5 separate regions of the Homo sapiens genome follow, and all the other regions are linked to region 1. Evidence: fine-mapped expression QTL. A gene starts in region 1. Each other region holds a variant in brackets. All regions are shown on one strand. Distances are between the middles of the regions.

Region 1 (4,222 bases):
GCAACAGGACACCATCTTGGAAGCAGAGACTGGGCCTCTCTATCAGACATTAAACCAGTTGGCACCTGGGCGACCCAGTATCCAGAACTGTGAGAAAATAAATTCCTGTTCTTTACACATTACCCAGTCTGTGTGTTATTCTGTTATAGCATCATAAACAGAATAAGACAAAAGTCTTCAAACAATGAATGGATTTTGAAAGGAGTAAAAGATGGGCTGGGCATGGTGGCTCATGCCTGTAGTCCCGGCACTTTGGAAGGCTGAGGTGGGCAGATTGCTTGAGCTCAGGAGTTCCAGACTAGCCTGGGCAACATGGCAAAACCCCATCTCTAAGGAAAAAAAGAAAAAAAAAGGGATGGAGGGGTGGGAGTTTTATAGACAAAGAAATACATAAGCAAACAGATAAGCAAAAGCACGTCCTCAGTAATTCCATGTTGCTTTATCTGTATTCATGATCATGTTTACAAATCCATTCTGGAATTCTGCTGACTACTGATATTTGCAATTTTTGGCATTACTTCTCATCCACCTTAGAAAACCTGGAGAACATTTTTTCTATCTTTAATCTTCATATACATGCTTAATGAATTCTGATGATTATTAATGGAAATTTCATAACATCAATTTATTCACCAATATTTATTAGACCCTTGATATGTTCAAGACCCTGTAGCTGGTGCTGTCGGAGTCACTAAGATGAACTATATAAATAACTACTCTATGTGTACGAATAACTACCCTACAAAGCAGAAAGCTATCAAGTGCCTTAAGGGAGTTGAAACTGTATTTGCTACAGGAGGGCTGAGAGAAGACAGAACATCTACGATTTTTTTTCTTTTCAATTCTCTTCCTACAACTAATTCATCCGACCTTGGAAGTTTGGTCTTACTAAAAACAAAAGTTAGCTGTTCTTTTACAACCTCCTCTTCAAGATTACTTGTCAGGGTTTGCTGTGCCCTTCGCAGCTTGAAAGACTTTCTCTTCATCCAACGATTTGAGGCAATTAGGAGCCACTGCCTTCTCTCTGCCATTGGGTTCCAGAAAGCACCATACATTGTCCGCAGATACTTTACTCATGCTTACACTTTCTTGTTCTGAATCTTCAAAAATTAGTGGCGTGTGGTGGCACACGCCTGTAGTCCTAGCTACTCGGGAGGCTGAGGCAGGAGAATCACTTGAACCTGGGAGGCGGAGGTTGCAGTGAGCCGAGATTTCGCCACTGCACTACAGCCTGGGCAGAATAGAGAGACCCCATGTCAAAAAAAGAAAAAAAAAGTATCTGATTGTGTTTAGCATATCTGCAATATCCCCTTGACTTTGGCCTTTAGCCTCTTTATGAGTACCCTGATGGAGGAAGGCCCAGGAAGCGGTAGCCTTCCTGGTTTGTGACGCACGGTGTGCATTGCGTATTAGATTAACATCAGAATGGCCCTGAAGGCTGGAACATCTTATCTGTGTTTGAGAGTTATGGAAACTCTGATCCTCCATGAGAATAATTTTTCCAAGGTCTCAGATCTCTAAAGCAGTAGATCTTGGATCTGAACATTGCTATTTCTGACCTTAAAGCCCATGCATTTCCCACAACATATGAACCATGATAAGGTGTATTTTAAAGTTCATCTTTTCTGTTTTTTGTGAAAGTCTTTTAGAGATCTCAGCTCATCACAAAGTTTCCGGTTCAGTCTCGTGGGTTTCATGTACTCAGCCAGCATTTACTTGCCAGTCAAGGTCTAGGATGGCTACCTGTCCTCTGCAGGAGCCCCAAGCCTATTCATTAATTTCATTTACAATTTTATAGTCATAATTATTTCTTTGTATAATAGCATTCTGAGATTTTCCAAAATTTCCCACTGTTTTTGTTTTACAGTGGGCAGAATTCACTTTGCTCTAACTTGACTCCAAGATGACACAATTTCCCAGTTTTTTTTTTAACGGCTAGGGGATGGGGGTATGCGGAACAGAACACAGTGGTCTAGCTAACCGATTTCCGCTAGACGTCCAGCTATCTTTCAAAATATTTTGTTTCTGCACGGCAACTTCAGCCGCTAAAAAAGCATCCAGCTTACAACGGAACCTGGAGGGTTGGTAAAGGCCCCCTGCGCTGGCCCCGCCCCATGGGACCGGGCGGCGTGGGCGTGAGAGGCGGGGCGGGGCCGCGCTCTGCTTGCCAATGTCTTTATAGGTCACCCGGAAGGCACGCGGAACCTCGGCGCGGTGCTTCCAGCAGGGTCTCTCCGCCACTCCAGCCCCGCGCCCCTCGCCGCGGCCCTCGGGCGTCTGCGCCGCAGCTGCCGCCCCCGCCTCTTTGGAGTCTCTCGCGGCCTCAAAGCGCGGCCTGCGTCGCTTCCGGCAGTTCCCGACCGCGGGCGATGGCTGCCGCTGGGGGCGCCCGGCTGCTGCGCGCCGCTTCTGCTGTCCTCGGCGGCCCGGCCGGCCGGTGGCTGCACCACGCTGGGTCCCGCGCTGGATCCAGCGGCCTGCTGAGGAACCGGGGGCCGGGCGGGAGCGCGGAGGCGAGCCGGTCGCTGAGCGTGTCGGCGCGGGCCCGGAGCAGGTAGGGCGCCGTGCGGGCGCGATCGCCGGCGCGGGCCGGGGTCCCCGGTGGGTGGCGCCTGGCTCTCTGGGCCGAGTCTCTGGTTCCAGTGCCTTCTGCGCGCCGGGCCCACACCCCGGAGGCCTGCCTCTCGCCCCCCTCTTCTGGGGTGCTCTCGCGGCTCCGTCTCGCTGCTCGGTGGCGTCGCTGCCTCCCTTCCGTCGCACCGCAGAGTTCCTTTCCGCATCACCCACTCCCGGCGGGAATCGGGGACCCTGGACGCCCAGCTCCCTTTCCCAGCGCTTCCCGTGCCCTGAGGAAAGCCGGGACTTTGCTGCTGCTTGTTCTCCGTGTGATTTGTCTGGGATCTGACCTTTGCTCTGCCCGAAACTGGCAGTGACCTTCGCGACAGGCTTCCCTCCTGCTGTCCTGGCCTGACACACCTGCCAGCTGTTTTTTTCAGGGCCTTGCCCTGCTTTGAGAGGACACCCAGGTCCCAGGTCTTTGTCAGGGGGTGTCCAGGTAGAATACACCCAGCCCATACCCTCTGCTGCCCTGTAGGCCCTTTGCTAGTTGCTCAAGTGTTGAAAGCCCCTGCGTTGAAGTAATCTGCCGGGACTTGAAACTTGGCTTTGGCACTGATTGTCTGACGTGCCTAACTTGGTCAGTCCTTAGGAACCCAGTTTCTCCATTTGCAAGTTGGATATAATAACAGTGTAGACCTCCTATGGTTAATTGAAGAATCAATGAGTTAATACAGCGATACAGGTAGTCTTGTGCCTAGCACGTAATGAGGGCTCAGTAGATGCCACTTGGTAGCAGCAGCAGCAGCAGCAGCAGCAGCAGCAGCAGCTTCTTAGGTTCACAATGTTAAGAGAGTTTTGTATTAAATATTGAAAGAAATGTGACAATTTATCCCAAATGTGTTGAAGTTTTAGGTTCTTGGGCATATTTGTTTTTCAAAGACACTCCTTAGATATACTAGAGATACAATTTACACATAATTTTTACCAACATGGTGGCGATTTATATAATGCAGATCTCTCGACAGCTCTTTGACCGCATGATGTAGGGTAGCAGGAATCGAGAACTAGAGGGAGAGTGTGTTGGATTTGTACGCTGCTTTGTCTAGTTTCTTTTTGAGGTCTCTGAGAGCAGGGTCTAAGACTTTCAGTCATCTTTTCCCCACTAATCCCGTTATCTAGTGGGTGCTCCATACATTTTTGTTGTGTGAACTTTGGGGGAAATCAGGGAGAAGGCAAGCCAGATTTATTTGTTCCTGTTTCCTCTGCACTTCCCCCCCTGTCTTTGACCAGTGTGGGTACCTTGCTTTCTGTTATACAATGGATGAGTTTTGGACAACTGAATCAATTGGGACAGATATTGAACATGCTTGTGTAACTGGTATAAGGGAACATGAATGTTTTTGTAGTAATTGGGAGTTATCTTTCTCAGATTTGTTTTTTGGATTTGGATATGTCAGGTTGTTTTAAAGGGGAGCACGTCTATTTCCTCATAATCCTGCTGCCCTCTTTATTGGCACAATTTCTATTCATGGTCTTATCATTCCTCTTACAGACTTTGGAGCTACAACTGGATTTTCCAGTTCTTACTGTGTTAATGAGACTTGTGCTGTAACTACCGTAACTACTAATCACATGTGGCTATTGAAGTTTAACATAATTAAAG
Region 2 (4,222 bases), 34 kb before region 1:
CACGGTGGCTCACGCCATCATCCCAGCACTTTGGGAGGCTGAGGTGGGCAGATCACTCGAGGTCAGGAGTTCGAGACTAGCCTGGACAACATGGTGAAGCCCCGTCTTTACTAAAAATACAAAAATTATCCTGGCATGGTGATGCACACCTGTAATTCCAGCTACTAGGGAGGCTGAGGCAGCAGAATCTCTTGAACCCGGGAGGTGGAGATTGCAGTGAGCTGAGATTGTGCCAATGCACTCCAACTTGGGTGACAGAGCGAGACTCTGTCTCAAAAAGGAAAAAAAAAAGAAGAAAACAAATCTTAGCTATTATGAACAGTGCTGCAACAAACATAGGAGTTCAAATATCTCTTTAATATACTGGTTTCCTTTTTTTGTGACTGTATACCCAACAATGCGACTGCTGGATCATATGGTAGCTCTATTTTTCGTTTTCTTGAGGAACTTCCAAACTATTCTCCATATAGGTTGTACTAATTTACATTCCCATCAACAGTGTATGAGGGTTCCCTTTTCTCCACATCCTTGCCAGCCTTTGTTGTTATCTGTTTTTTGGATATAAGCCATTTTAACTGGGGCGAGATGATAGATATCTGATTGTAGTTTTGATTTGCATTTATCTGATGATCAATGATGTTGAGCACCTTTTCATATGTCTGTTTATCATTTGTATGTCTTCTTTAGAGAGGTGTCTATTCAAGTCTTTTGCTCATTTTTTGATTGGATGATTAGATTTTTTTTCCTACAGAGTTGTTCGAGCTCCTTATATATTCTTGTTGTTAATTCTTTGTGAGATGAATATGTTGCAAATATTCTCTCCCATTCTGTGGGTTGCCTCTTTACTTTGTTGATTGTTTCCTTTTCTGTAAAGAAGTTTTTAACCTCGAAGTGATCCCAGTTGTCCATTTTTGCTTTGGTTGCCTGTGCTTGTGGGGGTATTGTTCAAAAAATTTTTGCCCAGACTAATGTCCTGGAGATTTTCCCTAATGTTTTCCTCTAGTAGTTTCATGGTTTGGGGTCTTGGACTTAAGTCTTTAATCAATTTTGAGTTGTTTTTTTTTTCTTTTTTTTTTTTGTTGAGACAGAGTCTCACTCCATCGCCCAGGCTGGAGTGCAGTGATGTGATCTCAATCTCCACCTCCCGGGTTCAAGCGATTCTCCTGCCTCAGCCTCCTGAGTAGCTGAGATTACAGGTGCCCAGCTAATTTTATAAAATATTTTTAGTAGAGATGGGGTTTCACCATGTTGGACAGGTTGGTCTCAAACTCCTGACCTCAGGTAATCTGCTCACCTCAGCCTCCCAAAGTGCTGGGATTACAGGCATGAGCCACTGCACTCAGCCTGATTTAATTTTTTATATGGTGAGAGATAGGGATCTAGTTTTATTCTTCTGCATATGGATATCCAGTATTCCCAGCACCATTTATTGAAGAGATTCTTTTTCCCAGTGTATGTTCTTAGACCTTTATCAAAAATGAGCTCACTGTAAGTGTGTGGATTTGTTTCTGGGTTTTCTATTGTTCCATTGGTCTATGTGTCTGTCTTTATGCCAGTGTCATGCTGTTTTGGTTACCATAGTTCTGTAGTATAATTTGAAGTCAGATAATGTGATTCATCCAGTTTTGTTATTTTTGCTTAGGATAGGTTTGGCTATTCTGGGTCTTTTGTGGTTCCATACAAATTTTAAAATAGTTTTTATCTATTTCTGTGAAGAATGTAAGTGGTATTTTGATAGGGATTGCACTGAATCTGTAGATTGCTTTGGGTGGTATGGACATTTTAACCATATTGATTCTTCCAATCCATGAACATGAACTACTTTTTCATTTTTTGTTGTCCTCTTCAATTTCTTTCATCAGTGTTTTATAGTTCTCATTACAGAGATTTTTCACTCCTTTCATTAAGTTAATTCCTAGGCATTTAATTTTATTTGTAGCTGTTATAAATGGGATTACTTTTTAATTTCTTTTTCAGATTGCTCACTGTTGGCATATAGAAATGCTACTGATTTTTCTATGTTGTTTTTGTATCCTGCAGCTTTACTGAATTTATCAGTTCTAATAGTTTTCTTGTAGAATCTTTAGGTTTTTCCAACTATAAGATCATATCATCTGCAAACAAGGATAATTTGACTTCTTCCATTCCAATTTGAATGCCCTTTATTTCTTTCTCTTGTCTGATTGCTTTAGCTAGGACTTCCAGTACTATGTTGAATAACAGTGGTGAAAGTGGCCATCCTTGTCATGTTCCAGATCTTAGGGGAAAGGCTTTCAGTTTTTCCTCATTTAGTATGATACTAGCTGTGTGTCTGTGGTATATGGCTTTTGTTATGTTGAGGTATGTTCCTTCTATACCCAGTTTTTTGAGGGTTTTTATGACAAAGGGATGTTG[AT/A]TTTTTTTTTTTCCAAGATGGAGTCTCAGTCTGTCACCCAGGCTGGAGTGCAGTGTCGTGATCTCGGCTCACTGCAACCTCCACCTCCTAGGTTCAAGCAATTCTCCTGCCTCAGCCTCCTGAGTAGCTGGGATTACAGGTGCCTGCCACCACACCCAGCTAATTTTTGTATTTTTAGTAGAGACAGAGTTTCACCATGTTGACCAGGCTGGTCTCGAACTCCTGACCTCGTGATCTGCCCACCTTGGCCTCCCAAAGTACTGGGATTACAGGTATCAGCCACTGCACCTGGCTGGGATGTTGAATTTTATCAAATGGTTTTCTGCATCAATTGAAATGATCATGAGATTTTTTTTTTCATTCTGTTCATATGACACATCACACATGTTGGGAGCAGGCCCCCCAAGATCTGGCCATAAACTGGCCCCAAAAATGGCCATAAACAAAATCTCTGCAGCACTGTAACATGTTCATAATGGCCCTAACGCCCAAGCTGGGAGGTTCTGGGTTTACGGGAATGAGGGTAAGCAACACCTGGCCCACTCAGGGCGGAAAACCACTTAAAGGCATTCTTAAGTCACAAACAATAGCATGAGCAATCTGTGCCTTAAGGACATGCTCCTACTGCAGTTAACTAGCCCAACCTATTTCTTTAATTTGGCCCATCCCTTCGTTTTCCATAAGGGATACTTTTAGTTAATTTAGTATCTATAGAAACAATGCTAATGACTGGTTTGCTGTTAATAAATATGTGGGTAAATCTCTGTTTGGGGCTCTCAGCTCTGAAGGCTGTGAGACCCCTGATTTCCCACTTCACACCTCTATATTTCTGTGTGTGTGTCTTTAATTCCTCTAGTGCCTCTGGGTTAGGGTCTCCCTGACCGAGCTGGTCTCAGCAAGTGGCGTCCATTTGTGGGGGCTCAAATCCAGGTCGAAGGGTCACCGGAGCAATGGTTGGAAGGGAAAACTAGCTGGAGGACACCCGAGTACTCTTAAAGCAATCCCCATGGTAAGAAGGGGAGCTCGGAAGCATCAGGGTAACAATGGAACAGGTGTGGGGTCTGGTTCATTTCCCCTTGGAACTTTTCACACTGATAATGAGGAGGAACAAGAGTATAGTGAAGTAACAGAAGAGGTTACAGAGCATGTTTATTAACCATATAAAGCTAAAGTGGCAAAGGAAGGAGAGATTCATCCCTACCCTTCTGCACCCCCTCATTATTATTTTGAAGAAAAAGACCCTCCAGATCTTTCTTTTCCAGAGGACACCGGGCAAAAAGTAGTTGTCCCAGTGACTGTTCAAGCAGCACCTTGAGTGACCGCTCTTAGTTCTATTCAGGCAGGAATTCAGCAAGCTAGATGAGAGGGTGATTTAGAGGCTTGGCAGTTCCCTGTTAGACTACAACTCCCAGATCAACGGGGAAGTATTATAGCTACATTTGAGCATTTTCCTTTTAAATTACTCAAAGAATTTAAACAAGCTATAAATCAGTATGGACCAGGTTCTCCTTTTGTAATGGGACCGTTAAAGAATGTTGCTGTTTCCAGTTGGATGATTCCTACTGACTGGGATGCTGTTACTCAAGCTTGTCTAACTCCTGGTCAGTTCTTACAATTTAAAACTTGGTGGGCAGATGAAGCTTCCATTCAGGCTGCTTGCAATGCCCAGGCCCAACATCAAATTAATGTAACTGTAGACCAACTTTTGGGGGTTGGCGGCTGGGCTGGTTTAGATGCGCAACTGGTCATGCAGGATGATGCCATAGAACAGCTTAGAGGAGTGTGCATTAGAGCTTGGGAAAAAATCACTATAGGTGGAGAACATTA
Region 3 (4,222 bases), 29 kb after region 1:
ACTATGTTCAGTGTTTGTTGCTTTTGTCAGGTGCATGTGAGGGAACCCTGGCTTGTTCAACCTGTCACCTCATCTTTGAAGATCACATATATGAGAAGTTAGATGCAATCACTGATGAGGAGAATGACATGCTCGATCTGGCATATGGACTAACAGACAGGTAAGATTTTTGGACTGCTTCAATTGTAATAATAATCTGGGAACATAGATGTTGTATTATGTTGTCTATGTAAGACCAGACCCATAAATGTAATAGTGTTCTACCAGGTTAAATAACAGTCACAGATTTTGAGTATCAGATATGTGGCATTTCTCTTTGTTTTCACTGTTCTACAGTTTAGACCTTATGAAATTTTACAAAAGTAAAAAAAATTAATTGGAAGTATAAGTTCTAGATCCTAACACCTCTTCTTTAGTCTCTTTTTACTCCAGGAACTAATATGTATCACAACTGAATGGAGGGGTTAAATCTAATGCTTTTATATTTGATAATTGAACACAATTATAATGGAAAGTTTCACCTATTAGAACAGAATTTTTAAAGAAACTTAATATATAATAGTAATTATGTTAAAATGAATAGCTCTTTTTCTAAGTGTACCTTAAAGTAATCAGAGCTTATTCTTGTTATTAATTAATAGTTACTCTTAAAAGTGGTGAGATTTACAGTAGCAAGTGACATCAAGTGATATCTTATTTTTTAAAAAAATTATCTAGTCTTTTGATTGGAGTCAATGAAGGTAGCTAGCTGATATACTATTTCAAGGGGTAAGATAATGAGGGCATATTACTTAATTAAGGTTGGCTTTGTTTAACTCTAGTTTGGTGACCTTAATGACAAATAATTTTTTAAAAATTAAAGATAGTAATAATAGTTTTATTTCATGTGTATTATATAGCTACAATTTTGTTATACACTTTTAATATAAACTACCTCATTTAATCCTCACAAACATTTTCAGGTCATTTGTATTTATTTAGAGAAGAAGAATCATTTTGTTCCTTTTATAGTTCATTTCCCTCTTGGTGGATGTGAGACTGATAACCCTGGGAAGAGAAACTGGTGAAATAGTATCTCTTTGGACACCAAAGCAGAGTGGATTGTGGCTACTGTCTGCCTGTCCTCTCACATCTTCAGTGCCGTGTTCTCTATGAGCACCTCCTTTCTTCCCCTTAACACAGAAACTAAATCCAATGACTGTATTAGTTTGGTTCTGAGAATTGTGTCTCTTAATAAGAGAGTTAAATCATAGCTAACTGCTTGCTCTTTTATACAGTTACAATTTGTAGATGCCTGTAATAGATAATATTCTAATTGAAAAGAAAGGGAAAAGGGAGAGCTACAGTTAGATACAAAAGGTCTATAATAAATGTAAGCTAGCAAGAGTATTGATGATAAAATTTCCAAGTTTTACAGCTACACAATAGAGAGCAAGGAATAGCTTTTATGGTGTTTTATAGCTGGTATTCTTAAGTACACAGCATTTTAGTAGAAATACTTTGTGGGAAAGAGTATAATGGGTTTCACAGGTAGCATTTACAAAACACATTGACATATTTGGAATGGAAAGAATTTTGCTCAAAGCTAGTAACCACATGTAAACTTATTTTTAGGGTATCAGAAAGTTTCAGAAAAAGAAATAAGGAAATTCAGCCTTTTAGTTCATATACTTACTTTAAATACTATGTAAATGTTTTTAATTTTTAAGCAAAAACACCATCGTTTCTTTTTTTTTTTGAGGCAGAGTCTTGCTTTGTCACCCTTGCTGGAGTGCAGTGACATGATCTTGGCTCACTGCAACCTCTGCCTCCCGGGTTCAAGCAATTATCCTGCCTCAGCCTCCCGAGTAGCTGGGATTACAGGTGCCTGCCACCATGCCCCGCTAATTTTTGTATTTTGAGTAGAGACGGGGTTTCACCATGTTGGCCAGGCTGTCTCGAACTCCTGACCTCATGATCTGCCCACCTTGGCCTCCCAAAGTGCTGGGATTACAGGCGTGAGCCACCGTGCCTGGCTTCAATGTTTTATTGGTTGTCCTTAACCTTGATTGTTGATGGATGGATGGATGATACATGGACAGCCTCATTGTTTTTTTCATACTGGTTACCTATCTCCCTTTTCCCATTAAAGGAGCAGCCATGTCTTATTTTACCATTGTATCTCTAATGCCAGATTCACAGTAGAGGTCACCAACTGCTTGCGGAATTAATAGTTGATGGAAAGGGAGATTCAGGAATTACCTGTGAGTTTACATTGGATGATTGTAATTGCTCCCTGCCACCAGTTTGCATGGGTAATCTACACAGAGGCCTCAGATTCCTTATATGT[A/G]AGGTGAGGATAATAATAGTACCTACCTCACAGTATTGCTGTGTGGAGTTAATGAGGAAATATATGTGAAGCTCTCAGAACAGTGCTTGGTGGAGAAAGCATTCATTAAATGGTAGTTGTTAGCATTGTAACTACCATCATATCGACTTATCTATTGGGAACTTACTGTAATGCCTAGGCACTTAAGTATTATTTCTAACCTTCAGGGTTAGGCAGTACTATCACCATGTTGTAGGTGGGGAAACAAGGTTTAGTTATCACGGATTTGCTTAAGGCTGCACAGCTAGTGGGTAACACCCCTGATTTAAATCCAGCTGTGTTGGGCCCCAAAGCCTTTAGTCTTTTACTATTTCAAGCTGCTTCTCTGAGTTGAAAACCAAACCCTAGAACTAAAGTAAACCTAATACCCAGTATATTTTCACCATCAGGGATATGTGGCAAGAGTAACTGGAGAAAATACCTTCCAGGTTTGCAGAAGTGTCAAAATGTTGTGGGACTCAAAGTGTGAAATCAGGGGAGCCTTGTTGTTTGTCTCCTTCTCTAGAAGTATGAGACACCATCTATACTGGTGGATCTTGGAGCCAGAGATCTTTAAGGAGGTAGAAGAAGTAGGAGAGTGAGAAACTAGCCACAGAGCGCCACTGCCTTATTCTCTAGACTGAGCAGGAGCTTTTTGTTCCGTCTCTTTCTGTGTTCCCATAACAGATTTATTGTTCTTCTATCACCACACTTGTGGTACCCTGCCATGTTTCACTGATAACTGTTTCCATCTCTGTTTCCCTTACTAAAGTAACCGTTCCTTGAAGACCAGCATCATCTTGCTATCTGTGTATGAATACCAAGAGTAACCAACAGACTCTCTAGAGCTCACTGCTGTCTTAACGAATTTGTCCAAATTGGCTTGCCACTTTTTCTCTCTTGCAGACAGAGCTTAATGCATAATTGAGTATTGTGAAGGCTGTTTCCAATTCTACAAATAAAGAACTCTTGATAGAGGGGATTTTTTTTCTATTAGTAATCAGTATTTCTCATGGTTAAGCACACTCCTTTACTCCAAAACTTCCTGGTGGTTCCTCCTTGCTCACCAGTGAAACACAGGCCCCTTAACTGATATTCACAGCTGCCTGTGGCTCTGGCCGCTTTTCTGGCCCATCATTCCCCTTGTCCTTGTTTACGCTGTGCAGCAACCAAGCTAAAACACCCATCTTGCTTTAAATGTGACTTGAGCTTCTTTGCATTGTGTTGCCTTTGCCTCACATACTTTTCTCCTTTATCTTGTACTAAATAGTAAATCCTACCTATCCTCCAAAGCCCATTGTGGACAACACCTTCTGTGGCCAGAAGTAAGGGCTTTCTTCTTAGACCTCTCAGAGCCATTTGGCTTTCTCCCTCGGTGGCATTTGCCACAGTCTCACATGTTAACTATCTGAATGTGTCTCATCTCATCCCTTTGATTGAAAGTTTACTCATTAATGCTGGCATTAGCAACCAATCCTCACAGCAGTCCTGTGAGGAATTCTCCTGCTCATCTTGAAGATTAGGTTAGGAAACTACCATTTGGTGAGGTTAAGCAAGTTGCCTGTGAACATGGTATATTAAGTGCTGGATTCTGCACTGCTGGTCTCTTTGGCTGTAACTCTGATGCTGTCTCTTTAGTGCATCCCAATGCCCAGAAAATAAGAAGTGTTCAGTAAGAAAGTGTGGAGTTGATTTGCTCTTCCTCATTGACATTTAGTGTTGTGCCTTTAGGTGCTCAATAAATGCTTCATGAGTACATTAATAAAACCAAGACCTGAATATCAGATTTCATCAAATTGAAGACATGTCAATTGTAAGATTAACATTTCTTTTTATATGCCACTAAGGAAGATAAAAGCACTGCTAATTCAAATA
Region 4 (4,222 bases), 40 kb before region 1:
ACTCAGGGGTCAGGGACCAACTTGAGGAGGCAGTCTGTCCATTCTCAGATCTCAGGCTCTGTGCTGGGAGAACCACTACTCTCTTCCAAGCTGTCCGACAGGGACTTTTAAGTCTGCAGAGGTTTCTACTGCCTTTTGTTCTGCTATGCCCTGCCCCCATAGGTGGAGTCTACAGAGGCAGGCAGGCCTCCTTGAGCTGCGGTGGGCTCCACCCAGTTCGAGCTTCCTGGCCGCTTTGTTTACCTACTCAAGCCTCAGCAATGGTGAGCTCCCCTCCCCCAGTCTCGCTGTGGTGTTGCAGTTTGATCTCAGACTGGTGTGCTGGCAATGAGCGAGGCTCTGTGGGCGTAGGACCCTCCGAGCCATGCGCAGGATATAATATCCTGGTGTGCTGTTTGCTAAGACCATTGGAAAAGTGCAGTATTAGGGTGGGAGTGACCCAATTTTCCAGGTGCCATTTGTCACCCCTTCCCTTGGCTATGAAAGAGAATTCCCTCACCCCTTGCACTTCCCAGGTGAGGCGATGCCTCGCCCTGCTTCGGCTCATGGTCAGTGCACTGCACCCACTGTCCTGCACCCACTGTCCAACAATCCCCAGTGAGATGAACCTGGTACCTCAGTTGGAAGTGCAGAAATCACCCGCCTTCTGCGTCGCTCATGCTGGGAGCTATAGACTGGAGCTGTTCCTATTCAGCCATCTTTGAACTGCCCCCCTATTTCAGGTACCAATTTTTTTCTTTTCTTTTATGTTTTTGAGACAGATTCTCACTCTGTCACCCAGGTTGAAGTGCAGTGACATGATCTCGGCTCACTGCAACCTCCGCCTCCAGGGTTCAAGCGATTCTCCTGCCTCAGCCTCTCGAGTACCTGGGATTACAGGTGTGTGCCACCATGCCCAGCTAATTTTTGTATTTTTAGTAGAGTTGGGATTTCGTCATATTAGCCAGGCTGGTCTCAAACTCCTGACCTCAAGTGATCTATCTGCCTGCCTCGGCCTCCCAAAGTTCTGGGATTACAGGCATGAACCACTAAGCCCAGCCAATTTTTTTTTTTGTTTGAGACAGAGTTTTGCTTTTGTCACCCAGGCTGGGGTGCAGTGTTATGAACTTGGCTCACTGCAACCTCCACCTCTTGGGTTCAAGTGATTCTCATGCCTCAGCCTCCTGAGTAGATGGGAACCTCCCGAGGTGCACATCACCACACTTGGCTAATTTTTGTATTTTAGTAGAGACCGGGTTTCATCATGTTGGTCAGGCTGGTCTTGAACTCCTGACCTCAGGTGATCCACCTGCCTCAGCCTCCCACAGTGCTGGAATTACAAGCGTGAGCCACACAGCACCTAGCCCCAGCCGATTTTTTTCTTTTCTTTTCTTTTTTCTTTTTTTTGAGGCAATTTTTTTCTTTTATGATTTATGTTTTTGTGTTCTTTCTAGAAAATCTTTGTCTACTTCACAGTCATGAAAATGTTTTTCTGTGCTTTGTTATAAACGGTTTATTGTTCAGCTTTTTTGTTCAGATATGTGATCCATTTGAGTCAATATTATGTATCATTTGAAGAAAGGATCAAGGTTAATTTTTTCCTTTGAAAATGGTATCCCTTTATTCCATCCCCACTTGCAGAAGACACTGTCCTTTCTTCATTAAATTACTTTGGATGCTGTGTTGAAGGTCAACTGACCATTGCAAAAGTGGGTTCTATTTCCTGGTTCAGCTTTCTCACTCCCTTTCAACCTCCCTTTCTTCCTTCCTTCACTTTTCTTAAATTTCTTTTTTGTTGTTAACCAAAGTTCATACCTTATTCAGATTTCCCTAGTTACATTTCCTTAGGGCCTAATGTCTTTTTGCTGTCCCAGGATTTCATCCTGGATACCACATTACATTTAGTCATCATGTCTCTTCAGGTTCCTTTTGGCTGTGACAGTTTCTCAGAAATTTCTTGGTTTTGATGACCTTGGCAATTTCGAAGAGTCCTGGTCAAGTATTTTGTAGAATGTTGCTCAACTGGGGTTTCTTTGATGTTTTTCTCATGGTTAGTCTTGGGTTACGGGTTTTGGGAGGAAGACCACAGGGGTGATGTGACAGTCTCATAACATCATATCAATGCTACACACCGTCAACATGACTTATTGTGTTGATGTTGACTTTGATCAGTTGGATGACGTAGTGTTTGTCAGGTCTTTCCAGTGTAAAGTAATCTTTTCTCCCCCTTTCCATTCTGTACTCTTATGCACAACTTTCACTTAGAATGGGGACTTAATCTTCACTTTTTGAGGGCAGAGTATCTACATAAAATGATTTGGAATTTTTCTGCAGGAAAGAGTTGTCTATTTCTCACTGTTTATTTATTCAGTCATTTATTTATATCAGTATTGGATACTTATTTTATACTTTGGGTTATAATCCATTTTAATTTTTGTTGCTGAAATTGTTTTCTTTGGCCACTGGGA[G/A]CTGTCCCAGTTGGTTCCTGTGTCCCTTTGACATGCCCCAATTGTTGCATATGTCTGTTTCTGAGCAGTTCTTTACATTCTGGTGCTACAAAATGCTCCAGGCTGATTTTGTATATTTTCTGCTCTAGTCGTAGAATTAACCATTTCTCCAAGGATCCCTCCTTTTTTTTTTAATTGGGAAATGCTATTAGAAACTAAGTTCTATACATTCTATTTCTATATTTGTGGGCCATATTACCAACATGAAGAATAAAAGAGAGGATATCACTATAGAATCCTACAAATGCTTAAAAGGTTTGATAAGTTTGACCAGTTCCCTGAAAAATACACACATACACACATCATTGACTTTATTACAAATAATTTTCCCATGAAGAAAACTCCGGGACCGTGTGATTTTGCTAGTTAAGTCTATTGAACATTTAAAGATCCGTAATACTAATATTATACTAACTCTTTGAGAAAGTAGAGGGGTGAACACTTCCCAAAACATTTTATGAGGTTAGTATAAGCCTGATACCAAACCTGAGAGAGAAATTAAAAGAGAAAACGATGTAAATAAAATCCCTTCTTACCACAGATACAGAAATCCCCTGTCAAATACTGGCAGATCAAATCCAGAAATACAGGCCAGGCGTGGTGGCTCACACCTGTAATCCCAGCACTTCGGGAGGTTGAGGTGGGATCCCTTGATGTCAGGAGTTCAAGACTGGCCTGGCCAACGTGGTGAAACCCTGTCTCTACTAAAAATACAAAAATTAGCTGGGGGTGGGGGTGCATGCCTGTAGTCCCAGCTACTTTAGAGGCTGAGATGGTGCCAGTGCACTCCAGCCTGGGCGACAGAGCAACACTACTCTCACAAAAGAAAAGAAAAGAAAAAAATGTAATATAAATTAAATATTAATGTTATATAAATTATTTATATGTAATTGTGTTTGCAAAATTTATAATGGTATATATTCATTTAATTTATATCAGAATGAAATTTTTTTATATGAGGAAAACCTTTTCTAACCAGCAATTAACTAGATGTCAAAGAATACAGTGTCAGAATGCACAAGATAATTAATATTTATGATAATCTGTTAGATTATGTGATGACAGCAAAAAATAAATCTGATTGCATACATGAGAGTTTTTTATTCTTTTACTTCACCCAAACACATCAGGCTATCATCTTTACTTTTCTGTAACAAAGCTCATGTTGACTGAGTTGCAAGTCAAAGTAGAAAACTACTAAAATGAGTTAGAAGAAAACAAGGTACATTAAACCTATAAATTATATAGACATGGAAAGAGCATGAGATTTTAAAGTGAAAAAAATTAGATTGAGTTCTTTAGTCACTATTGGCAAACTGTTTGTCCTTGGGCAAGGTACTTAACCATTCCCCTGAACCTCAGTTTTTCATCTGTGAGATAAAAACAATAACAATAATAGCCTTCAGAAAGCACATAATGCAGGTCTCAGGCTAAGTTTTTTATGTGCATTACCTCATTTAGCCTTCACATCAACCATGTGAGGTGGGTACTGTAATACCGTTATAACCCCAGTCTACAGATGAGGAAACTAAAGCTTGAGAGGTTAGGTAATTCTCCCCATGACATGCAGCAAGTACGTGATGAAGCAGGGATTCAAAGCATGACTCTAAAACCCAGGGCCTTAATTATTACACTATACTACTGCTATGGTTTCCATGTGGTTTGTCTCTGCCAAAACTAATGTTGAAATTTAATTGCAATGTAAGGATGTTGGGAGGTGGAACTTTTTTTTTTTT
Region 5 (4,222 bases), 27 kb before region 1:
CGATTTTTCTTGGTCCTCTTTGGGGTCTAGGAGGACAGGCAAGGGTCCAGCTTTTTGAGAATGCATCAGTAAGGGCCACTAACTCTGACCTTCCTCAGTCCTCCTTGTGGTGTAGGAGGAAAACTAGTGTTTCTGTTGCTGTGTTGGTGAGTGCAACTATTCCGATCAGCAGGGTCCAGGGACCATCACAGGTTCTTGGGCAGGGGGAGAAACAAACAAACCAAAACGGTGGGTGGTTTTGTCTTTCAGATGGGAAACACTCAGACATCAACAGGCTCACCCTTGAAATGCATCCTAAGCCATTGGGACCAATTTGATCTGCAAACCCTGAAAAAGAGGTGGCTCATTTTTTTTCCTGCACTACAGCCTGGCCCCAATATTCTCTCTCTGATGGGGAAAAATGGTCACCTGAGGGAAGTATAAATTACAATACTATCATGCAGCTTGACCTTTTCTGTAAGAGGGAAGGCAAATGGAGTGAAATACCTTATGTCCAAGCTTTCTTTTCATTGAAGGAGAATACACAACTAGGCAAAGCTTGCAATTTACATCCCACAGGAGGACCTCTCGGCTTACCCCATATCCTAGCCTCCCTATAGCTCCCTTTCCTATTAATGATAAGCCTCCTCTAATCTCCCCTGCTCAGAAGGAAATAAGCAAAGAAATCTCCAGAAGATCACAAAAACCCCCGGGCTATTGGTTATGTCCCCTTCAAGCTGTAGGGGGAGGGGAATTTGGCCCAACCCAGGTACACGTCCCCTTCTCCCTCTCTGATTTAAAGCAGATCAAGGCAGACCTGGGGAAGTTTTCAGATGATCATGATATGCACATAGATGTCCTACAGGGTCTAGGGCAAACCTTCGATCTCATTGGAGAGATGTCATGCTATTGTTAGATCAAACCCTGGCCTTTACTGAAAAGAATGTGGCTTTAGCTGCAGCCCAAGAGTTTGGAGATACCTGGTATCTTAGTCAAGTAAATGATAGACTGACAGCCAAAGAAAGGGACAAATTCCCTACTGGTCAGCAAGCCATCCCCAGTATGGATCCCCACTGGGACCTTGACTCAGATCATGGGGACTGGAGTCATAAACATCTGTTGACCTGTGTTCTAGAAGGACTAAGGATAATTAGGAAAAAGCCCATGAATTATTCAATGATGTCCACCATGACTCAGGGAAAGGAAGAAAATCCTTCTGCCTTCCTCGATTGGCTACGGGAGGCCTTAAGAAAATATACTTCCCTGTCACCTGACTCACTAGAGGGTCAATTGATTCTAAAAGATAAGCTTATTACCCAATCAGCTGCAGAAATCAGAAGAAAGCTCCAAAAGCGAGCCCTGGGCCCTGAACAAAATCTGGAGGCATTATTAAACCTGGCAACTTCAGTGTTCTATAATAGGGGCCAAGAAGAACAGGCCCAAAAGGAAAAGTGAGATCAGAGAAAGGCCACAGCCTTAGTCATGACCCTCAGACAAACAAACCTTGGTGGTTCAGAGAGGACAGAAAATGGAGCAGGCCAATCACCTGGTAGGGCTTGTTATCAGTGTGGTTTACAAGGACACTTTAAAAAAGATTGTCCAATGAGAAACAAGCCACCTCCGCATCCATGTCCACTCTGCCGAGGCAATCACTGGAAGGCACACTGCCCCAGAGTACGATGGTTCTCTGGGCCAGAAGCTCCCAACCAGATGATCCAACAACAGAACTTATGGTGCCCAGGGTAAGCACCAGCTCTTGTCATCACCCTCACTGAGCCCCGGCTATGTTTAACCATTGAGGACCAGGAAATTGACTTCCTCCTGGACACTGGTGTGGCCTTCTCAGTGTTAATCTCCTATCCTGGATGACTGTCCTCAAGGTCCATTACCATCTGAGGAATCCTGGGACAGCCTGTAACCAGGTATTTCTCCCACCTCCTCTGTTGTAATTGGGAGACTTTGCTCTTTTCACATGCCTTTCTTGTTATGCCTGAAAGTTCCACACCCTTATTAGGGAGGGATATGTTAGCCAAAGCTGGAGCTATTATCTACATGAATATGGGGAACAAGTTACCCATTCGTTGTCCCCTACTTGAGGAG[G/A]GTCTCAACCCTGAAGTCTGGGCATTGGAAGGACAATGTGGAAGGGCAAAAAAATGCCCACCCAGTCCAAATCAGGCTAAAAGATCCCACCACTTTTCCTTATCAAAGACAATATCCCTTAAGGCCTGAAGTTCATAAAGGATTACAGGATATTGTTAAACATTTAAAAGCTCAAGGCTTAGTAAGGAAATACAGCAGTCCCTGCAACACCCCAATTCTATGAGTACAAAAACCAAATGATCAGTGGAGACTAGTGCAAGATTTTAGACTCATCAGTGAGGCAGTAATTCCTCTATATCCAGTTGTACCCAACCCCTATACCCTGCTCTCTCAAATACCAGAGGAAGCAAAATGGTTCACTGCTCTGGACCTCAAGGATGCCTTCTTCTGTATTCCCCTGCACTCTGACTCCCAGTTTCTCTTTGCCTTTGAGGATCTCACAGACCACACATCCCAACTTACGTGGACCATCTTGCCCCAAGGGTTTAGGGATAGCCCTCATCTCTTTGGTCAGGCACTGGCTCAAGATCTAGGCCACTTCTCAAGTCCAGGCACTCTGGTCCTTCAGTATGTGGATGATTTACTTTTGGCTACCAGTTCAGAAGCCTCATGCCAGCAGGCTACTCTAGATTTCTTGAGCTTTCTAGCAAATCAAGGGTACGAGGCATCTAGGTCGAAGGCCCAGCTTTGCCTACAGCAGGTCAAATATCTAGGCCTAATCTTAGCCAGAGGAACCAGGGCCCTCAGCAAGGAATGAATACAGCCTATACTGGCTTATCCTTGCCCTAAGACATTAAAACAGTTGCGGGGGTTCCTTGGAATCACCGATTTTGCTGACTATGCATCCCTGGATACAGTGAGATATCCAGGCCCCTCTATACTCTAATCAAGGAGACCCAGAGGGCAAATACTCATCTAGTAGAATGGGAACCAGGGGCAGGAACAGCCTTCAAAACCTTAAAGCAGGCACTAGTACAAGCTCCAGCTTTAAGCCTTCCACAGGACAAAACTTCTCTTTATACGTAACAGAGGAGCTGGGATAGCTCTTGCAGTCTTTACTCAGACTCATGGGACATCCCCACAACCAGTGGCATACCTAAGTAAGGAAATTGATGTAGTAGCAAAAGGCTGGCCTCACTGTTTATGTGTAGTTGTGGCAGTGGCCATCTCAGTGTCAGAGGCTATAAAAATAATACAAGGAAAGGATCTCACTGTCTGGACCATTCATGATGTAAATGGCATACTAGGTGCCAAAGGAAGTTTATGGCTATCAGACAACTGCCTACTTAGATACCAAGTGCTACTCCTTGAGGGACCGGTGCTTCAAATACGTACGTGTGTGGCCCTCAACCCTGCCACTTTTCTCCCAGAGGATAGGGAACCAATTGAGCATGACCACCAACAAATTATAGTCCAGACTTATGCCACCCGAGATGATCTCTTAGAAGTCCCCTTAGTTAGTTCTGACCTTAACCTATATACCAATGGAAGTTCATTTGTGAAGAATGGGATATGAAGGGCAGGTTATGCCATAGTTAGTAACGGTACTTGAAAGTAAGCCTCTTCCCCCAGGGACCAGCTCCCAGTTAGCAGAACTAGTGGCACTTACCTGAGCCTTAGAACTGGGAAAAGGAAGAAGAATAAATGTGTGTACAGTTAGCAAGTATGCTTATCTAATCCTACATGCCCATGCTGCAATATGGAAAGAAAGGGAGTTCCTAACCTCTGGGGGAACCCTCATTAAATACCACAAGGAAATTATGGAGTTATTGAATGCAGTGCAAAAACCCAAGGAAGTGGCAGTCTTACACTGCCAAAGCCATCAGAAAAGTGAAGGACAAAAGGCAGAAGGAAACCGTCAGGCAGATGCTGAGGCCAAAATTGCTGCCAGGTGGAACCTCCCATTCCCGCAAAAAAATGGGTCTTTACCAACTTAACCTACCACCCTTGTTATGAAGGAAAAGACCCTTTCCAACTTCTAAATATGCAATCATTAGCCAACTTCCCCATCTCTGATAGGACCAAGAATATACTAACAGGACATGCAATCCAACTTTTGTGTTCTTACATTTCCAACGTCACCTATTACACAAGCAATGAAAAGCCCATACATGGCCCTGTAACTATGAATACCATCTTAACT

What was found. PIP is the estimated chance that this variant, and not a neighbour inherited with it, causes the effect.
Region 2: its variant is the best candidate, but not a certain one, in a credible set for the expression of FDX1 in monocytes after interferon gamma (Fairfax 2014, PIP 0.82).
Region 3: its variant is the best candidate, but not a certain one, in a credible set for the expression of FDX1 in aorta (GTEx, PIP 0.60).
Region 4: its variant is the best candidate, but not a certain one, in a credible set for the expression of FDX1 in whole blood (TOPMed, PIP 0.56).
Region 5: its variant is the best candidate, but not a certain one, in a credible set for the expression of FDX1 in lung (TOPMed, PIP 0.80).

The regions. Positions count from the first base shown.
Region 1 is chr11:110,427,752-110,431,973 of GRCh38, forward strand. It overlaps FDX1 (ferredoxin 1), which reads left to right and starts at 2,197. Exons shown (of 4, transcript NM_004109.5): 1 at 2,197-2,554. The coding sequence starts at 2,370. RefSeq lists a silencer at 2,011-2,660 and an enhancer at 2,731-3,010.
Region 2 is chr11:110,393,439-110,397,660 of GRCh38, forward strand. The region is part of intron 3 of LINC02732 (long intergenic non-protein coding RNA 2732); the gene reads left to right. Among named protein-coding and RNA genes, the nearest start is that of FDX1, 34 kb to the right of the region's middle. The variant AT/A (reference allele first, on the strand shown) is at 2,395.
Region 3 is chr11:110,456,888-110,461,109 of GRCh38, forward strand. It overlaps FDX1 (ferredoxin 1), which reads left to right. Exons shown (of 4, transcript NM_004109.5): 3 at 31-160. Among named protein-coding and RNA genes, the nearest start is that of FDX1, 29 kb to the left of the region's middle. The variant A/G (reference allele first, on the strand shown) is at 2,330.
Region 4 is chr11:110,388,199-110,392,420 of GRCh38, forward strand. All of the region lies in intron 3 of LINC02732 (long intergenic non-protein coding RNA 2732), which reads left to right. Among named protein-coding and RNA genes, the nearest start is that of LINC02732, 35 kb to the left of the region's middle. The variant G/A (reference allele first, on the strand shown) is at 2,448.
Region 5 is chr11:110,400,863-110,405,084 of GRCh38, forward strand. The region is part of intron 3 of LINC02732 (long intergenic non-protein coding RNA 2732); the gene reads left to right. Among named protein-coding and RNA genes, the nearest start is that of FDX1, 27 kb to the right of the region's middle. The variant G/A (reference allele first, on the strand shown) is at 2,080.